Homo sapiens: one gene and its partner. The protein of the gene in region 2 purifies or fractionates together with the protein of the main gene of each other region. This does not show direct contact. Each region holds a gene or a part of one and is shown on either strand. Other genes may lie near its edges.

What was found.
Region 1: the proteins of KIAA0586 (region 2) and CEP290 purify together in Homo sapiens (co-immunoprecipitation; one study listed by IntAct). This does not show direct contact.

Annotation. Positions count from the first base shown.
Region 1 is NC_000012.12:88,076,062-88,079,892, forward strand, and holds part of CEP290 (centrosomal protein of 290 kDa), read right to left. Parts: intron 3,169-3,831; coding exon 3,031-3,168; intron 1,858-3,030; coding exon 1,636-1,857; intron 1,284-1,635; coding exon 1,161-1,283; intron 1-1,160. UniProt on the Homo sapiens protein: Involved in early and late steps in cilia formation. Its association with CCP110 is required for inhibition of primary cilia formation by CCP110.
Region 2 is NC_000014.9:58,542,544-58,546,374, reverse strand, and holds part of KIAA0586 (protein TALPID3), read right to left. Parts: intron 2,493-3,831; coding exon of another isoform or gene 2,408-2,492; intron 1-2,407. UniProt on the Homo sapiens protein: Required for ciliogenesis and sonic hedgehog/SHH signaling. Required for the centrosomal recruitment of RAB8A and for the targeting of centriole satellite proteins to centrosomes such as of PCM1.

The DNA of each region.
Region 1 (3,831 bases), on a different chromosome or scaffold from region 2:
ATAGAAACACACCAGTTAGGAACAAACATACCAGTTTCTAACCTATCCCCATTTAGGGATAAGATCAGGCCTATCCCCAATTAGGGAGTTAGAAAGATGGAAATCCAAAAGATTAAGGACACTTTGATCTTACAGTTTTCACCAGCAAAGCTTCTGACAGCAAGCATGTTGTGACTCCACGCAAATAGTGTCAATAAATTACACTGACATTAATGAATTTTCATAGAAAATAATTTTGGGAGCATACTCTATTAAGAAATTTGAATTCCATTACCTATTTTCTATTCAATGCCTTTAAAGACAGAATTTTCTTTTCCATTTTCATGTGATTGAAATTATTTTATAGACATTAAATATTTTCTGGGTAAATTTTATAATAAAAATTTTCCTAACCATAGCTCCTCCATACTGATTTTCTTCAATGGCAAATATTACTGCTAACATCAACATTTCCCAGTTCACTTTCGATATTTTGAATGTTACCAACAAGTTATCTCCAATTTATTGTCCATAACAAATTTAATTACACGCATTTTAGCCAATTTTAGTTTTTTTTGGGGTTATTTCAATCAGTAATTTTTATTACAAAACAGTTTACTATGAACTATAAAATTTTAAGCAATTTCTCCCACAGAATTAATCTATGAGCAGATTGGTTACTGATTATTACTGCAAATACTGAAGATATTCCAAATAACTTTGCTATCTGAAATAACAGCCTAGTCTCCTGAAGGATTAAAAAGGACCTATTTGGGTCAAAGTGGGGTATCTTAAAATGTCTATCTTTCTGTCCCAAAAGTCAAAAGCACCAACCTGTGTAAATGATTACTTTGGAGAGAAATGATACACAGTTGAATATGTTAAGGTGTGAAGGAACTTCAGAGGTACTCTAATGTCAGAAAGATGAATGAAATTGATGTAGTAATTTCCAAATAAGAGTTACATTATAGGTATCTCCTCAAGTAGACTCTAAATTCCTACAGAACAGAAACTTAGACTTTTCTACGTTATTCAATACTGCTTATAGTCCTCAAAATTAATACAGAATTAATACAGCCAGGTCATCAAATTAAGGCAGTATATTAACTGTTAATCAGCTATGTATTTAACTTACTCTGTCACTACCTTAAGCATATAAGTCAGTATGTTTCTTCACATACCTTTTCTTTCATAGGTTTTAGGTCTACTTCCTCCACCTTTCCCTCTAATTGGTTCTCTAGTTTTTTAACTTTCCTTTGGAGTTCTTCAATTAGACTTTGTTTATTATCTGTCAGGGGTTTGCCCTAAAAAATAAAATGTAACTTTATATTTTTACAAATAAATGTAAAACAAAATAGACAGTAAATATTTCAATTATATAATAGCAACTTTCTGAAGCTATCACTGACCATACTTTCTAAATGACACTTAATACATAAGATAATCTGGTAGCTGCTTCTGCATTTTAATACAACATACTAATATGCTACTCTAGAACTATAAACACAATAGAAGTCACAAAAGAAATTAATTACATTAATCAAAGTGATTTGAAAGTCAGTTTTAACAAATACCATAGATAAAATGATAAAGTAGAAATAAACTACTACCTCTATATTGTAAATCAGACATTATCAGAGTTAAATATAAAATTACCTGTAATCCACTGGTTAGTCTTTTAATTTGCCTTTTCAGTTCATCATTCTCTTGATCAATTTCCTCTTTCTCTCTAAGTATTTTATTATAGGCTTTTTGTTTCTTTTGCAGTTCATTATTTAAGTCATTCAAATTATCAGTTAGTGAGTTTTCTCTGTTTTTACTTGTTTTAAGTGCTTCTTTCAATTTTAAAAGATTTTCATTTAAATCTTCAACTTGTGTCTAATAAGAGAAAAAGAAAGGTATTATTCATGACTCTTCAAGAAGTATCAATGATAAAAGGAACATAAAACAGAAAATATACCATTATAAGAAAAATTCAGTCTGAATTTTTAAGTACACAAGAGAAAAAAAATAACCACAAACTACATATATTTTTCCATATTCATGTCAAGTCTACCTTGAGGAAAAAAGTCGACTTTGAGAAAAAAAAAAAAAACTAGTGTAAAGCAATTCATCTTCAACAAACACCCACAAACAAAATTTTATCAAATATGCACGTTTCATTTTGGCTGAATTAATTAAACAAACAAGTATATAACAATATATATGACAACGTTTTAAACACTATGAAGCATAAGAGTAGTACAGAACAAATCTCTGACTTGAAGTAATTTCTAACCTAGTTTACAAAGATAAGATATAAAAGGGTAACTTACAATACTAGACAATATGTATGCCACTAGAAAGGAGTTCCTAGCTGTCCTATGGTGAGAATGATGGGGACACACTGTATGTTTCCATCTATAACATATTCTGGAAAAGGTGAAACTATGGAGACAGTAAAAAGATCACTGGTTGCCAGGGGTTTGGTGAGGTGCAGAGGAAGGAATGAAGAAGAGAGGCACAGAAGATTTTTAGGGCAGTGAAAATACCCTGTATAATACTATAATGATGGATACATATCATTATACATTTGTCTAAACACACAGAGTGTAAAATACCAAGAGCTAAAATAGAGGTAAACTTGGACTTTGGGTGATTATGATGTATCAATATAGGTTCATCAATTTTAACAAATGTACCACTTTCAGGGTAGGAGATATACAGGAAATCTCTGTACCTTCCTCTCAATTTTGCTGTGAACCTAAAATTGCTCTAAAAAAATAATAAAGTCTTAAAAAAAATCCTAAGTAAAATATTTCTTAAATTTAATTTCATTAGAAACAGTAGTTCATAATGGCCTATCCTTTCCTAATCCCCAAGATGATAATCAGTAAATGAGTATCATAAAGAGACTTATTGTTGAAAAATGCATGTGTGTGTCTATGTCTAGCCACCAACAGTGCATTATAAATTCCCTATTCATCAACAAAATTACTATATATCATAGTGAATTCTCTTCCAATAGGAATTATCAGAAATTTTGTTACATTAACACGTGTTGATGTTCACCTTTAGCTCTCTAGTATGTCGATCAACGATTTGTTGAACATTGAGATGGGCCTCTTTTTGAGAAGTTGCAGAAATAATACGTTCTTCAGCAGCTGCTGTCATTTCTGCCCGGAGTTCTAAAAGTGCCCGACTAAGTGCCTAAAAATTAACCAAAAAAAAAATGTAATTTTTAAAGGAAAACTGACATTTTATATGAATATATGATATAAAAAATAAACAAGCTTTATTACTTCCTACTATTTTTCTAAAATATTATGAGTTTAATGGAACATATTTCACAAATTAACAACTCAACTTTTTCAAATAAATCTTTTGTAATTACACTCAATTCTTTCCACATTGAATGTGAAAGTTCAAAATCTTAATAATGATTTTGAGAACTCAGCATTAAATCAAGCTATTACAAAAAACAGGTATGTTTTGTTTTCAAACATCCAATTTTAGATATTTATATTACTCACTTACTACATCCTTCCATATGAAATTAATTGAATTTAGGTAGACAACAAAAGGACTAGGAAAGGCTTAAAGTTTACCCATAAATTTCATAGCTAGCACAGAAAAACACCAGCATCTTCTAAAACAATTTAAATAGATCAAATCTGAGATAAACTAAAAAAAACCCTAATAAATCAGAATACACTGACCAACTCCTTCTCACAAAAACATCTCTATGACCCCCTTTTTTCATCCCTTTTTGTCATTATCATACTTCCCTCAATCCCTCAAATTGTTCAAAATTGTTCATTTGTTAAAAATAGCCTCAGTAGCATAAAATTCCAGTAGAAAAAAAGAAAATAC
Region 2 (3,831 bases):
TGATGTCTCAATCATAGCTGTCCAAGCTCAGAATACTTGTAAAAGGAAAATTCCTTTCATATAAGGAAATTTAATAAAGACTATTTTAAATACTGTATCACTCCTTTTTGTTACTATTTCATTTTTTTATAAAAAGAGAGAGGAAGATAAGATTTGGTATCATTACAGCAATATCACAAACTATAATATAATACCATAGTATTTAAAAAGAAAACAAGTTTTATGTGAATTTAAATAGAATATTTCAAATAGGAAAAGATTTTAGTCTTTTCAGTTTGTCAGGATGTAATAAAAATGCAATGAATAGACACTAAAGACTGTATTTTTTAAATCTTTTTTTTGAGACAGGGTCTTGCTCTGTCACCTAGGCTGGAGTGCAGTGGCATGATCATGGCTCACTGCAGCCTCAACCTCACAGGCTCAAGCGATCCTTCCACCTCAGCCTCCCAAGTAGTTAGGACCACAGGTATGTACCACCATGCCTGGCTAATTTTTAAAAATTTTTTGTAGAGGGAGGGTCTCCCTATGATGCCGGGGCTGGTCTCAAACTCCTTTGTCTCAAACTCCTTGGTCTCAAGTGATCCTCCTTCTTCAGCCTCCCAAAGTGCTGACATTACAGATGTGAGCCACCATGCCTGGCCTTAAAAATGTGTATAGGACACAAGCATTAATAATATATAATATTTAAACATTCTTATATTTTACAAAGCCATGATGCAGAATACACAAAATAACTGAGGGAAGCAGCCAATATCAGAGCTCACCTCATGAATAAAGTAAAAACTAACACTGGATATAACTAAGTCCTAGGGCAAATTAATTTTCCACTCATACAAACAACTTAATGTTACCTTCTAATCCATTCCTTGAGTTATGCATCTGCCAAAAACAACAGTGATACCAAATACTCTTCTTTTCTCTGTTATTTAATTTCACAAAACCACTTTGTATATACCTTCGTTTTCTACTTTGTGCATAAAATTACAGATTAAATTGCTCAATGTTGTAATAAGAGCTATAACTTTTTAGGGTGGAGGGATCTCCTAGAAGTTTCCAAGTCTCAAGGAACATACTGAATTCAATCACTGTAAGCATTTCTTGCAGTTATTGCCTTATATTTGTATAACAATTCAAATTTTGTAAATACGTTTTCATCATATTATCTGATCCTAACAGTAATTCTCAGAAACAGACAAGGCAACTGAGGCCCAGAGACATTAAAGTGGGCTTCTCCAAAAGCATATATGCACTAACTAAACATCTATATGAATCTTCTGCATGTATGGAGCTAAGAGCATATGCAGATGAAGAAGACAGAGTCCTCATCCTCAAGAAGTTCATCACCTAGTAGAGGAGATAAACATGTATAGGAATACTTAAATGAAGTGGAAGGTAGCCATTGAGTTGGGACTGAAAAGATGGTGGGAAGGCAATGAAGGAAAACAGAATAACAAAATAAAGTCAAGATAAAGTTAATGTGTTAAGGGAACTCTGAGTATTCTGATATCAAATATTGTTTGGATAGGAGAAATGGTGAGATAAGCAAGGCCAGGGCCAAGTCCTGTGAAAGCAGTAAGGAGTCACAAAAAATTTTGACCACAGGAATAATTTGAGCAAATCTACGGTCTAATATCCAGCATCTATAAGGAACTTAAAACAAATGTATTAGAGAAAAACAACCCCAAAGGACATGAACACTTTTCAAAAGAACACATACATGAGGCCAGCAAGTATATGAATAAAAGCTCAATATCACTGCTCATTAGAGAAATGCAAATCAAAATCACAATGAGATACCATCTCACACCAGTCAGAATGGCTATTATTAAAAGGCCAAAAAATAACAGATGCTGGTGAGGTTGCAGAGAAAAGGGAACACTTATTCACTTGGTAGGAGGGTAAATTAGTTCAATCATTATGGAAAGTAATATAATGATTCCTCAAAGAAGCTAAAAGCAGAACTACCATTCGACCCAGCAATTCCATTACTGGGTTTATACCCAGAGGAATATAAATCAGTCTACCATAAAGACACATATATGCAAATGTTCACTGCGGCACAATTCACAACAGGAAGGGTATGGAATCAACCTAAATGCCCATGGATGACAAATTGGATAAAGAAACTGTGGTACATGTATACCAAGGAATACCATGCAGCCATAAAAAAGAACAAGATCATGTCTTTTGCAGGAACATGGATGAAACTGGAAGCTATCATCCTTTGCAAACTAATGCAGGAACAGAAAACCAAATACTGCATGTTCTCACTTATAAGTGGGAACTAAATGATGATAACTCATGAACACAAAGAAGGAAACAACAAACACTGGGATCTACTTGAGACTGGAGGGTGAGAGGAAGAAGAGGAGCAGAAAAAATAACTATTGGGTACTAGGCTTAATACCTGGGTGATGAAATAATCTGTATGACAAACCTCCACAGCCCGAGTTTACCTATACAGGAAACCTTCTTCACATGTACCCCCAAACCTAAAATAAAAGTTAAAAAAAAAAGAGGTAAAAATCATCCTAATAGCTGTGTGGAAAATAGAGAGACGGGAGACGGATCTATAAAAATAGTCCATAGAAGAACTAATGATCCTTGGCAGTGGAAATAGGGTCAAGATATTTTGGATGGAGACTTAGTACTTATAAAGAACCAAGTTTCACTCTGAAATGACAGATTTGGTTGACTGACTAGGCAGTAATAAGAACACCAACAAACTTGGGAGCGGTGATGAAATTTTAAGCACAAGTCTCTTCATGACAGATCAAGAGTAGGGTCCAAATCAGGTCACTTAGGAATGGCCCCACCCAGACTGCTGATGTGAGGCTTCTGTATGGGAAGGAGTAAAAGGCAGAGGGGATAAGAGAATGGATTCTGGAACAGGGCAGAGCTGAGCTCATCCATCCATCCAACAGATATCAACTGTGCACCTACTATGTGCCTGGCACTGTTCTAGACTCTGGAGAATACAGCAGTGAAGAAAACAAAGGGTCTAACCTCACTGGCCACACATTCTGTTGGGTTTAGGGGATGAATGACAAGTAAGGAAATAAACATCTAATATAACAGGAAGTGCTAAGTACTATAAAGAAAAATAGGTAAAAGGTAAGAGGGATAGAAAATAATAAGAGACTGAAAAAGTTACGTAACTTCTCTGAACCCCAGTTTTCTCAACTATAAAAAAAATATGAGTACCAACTTCAGAGGTGTTTCTTTTCTTTTTTTTTTTTTTTTGAGACGTAATCTCGTTTTGTCACCCAGGCTGGAGTGCAGTGGCGCAATCTTGGCTCACTGCAAGCTCCATCTCCTGAGTTCACGCCATTCTCCTGCCTCAGCCTCCCAAGTAGCTGCGAGGGACTAAAGGCGCCCGCCACCACGCCCGGCTAATTTTTGTATTTTTAGTAGAGACGGGGTTTCACCATGGTCTCAATCTCCTGATCTCGTGATCCACCTGCCTCGGCCTCCCAAAGTGCTGGGATTACAGGTGTGAGCCACCACGCCCGGCTGACTTCAGAGGTTTTTATGAGGATTCAGCCAGATAATACATACAAAGTGTTTTATATAGTGCTGGAACATAGAAAGCACACAAACATATCAGCTCTTACTTTTATGTAATTGGAAAGCCACTATCTAAGAGGCAATGAGGCTCAGGGTGGGCTGCAAAAGGTACTCTGCTTTAGAAGGAGGAATAAGAATGTTTCACTGAAATACAATTAAGAAAAAAAGAGGGAGTGGGGAAAGAGAGAGTACACTCTGGAAGGCCTCTAAATAGTTATGCTAGTTTAAACTCTAGTTAACTGTGTTTTAATCAAGAAGTTATAG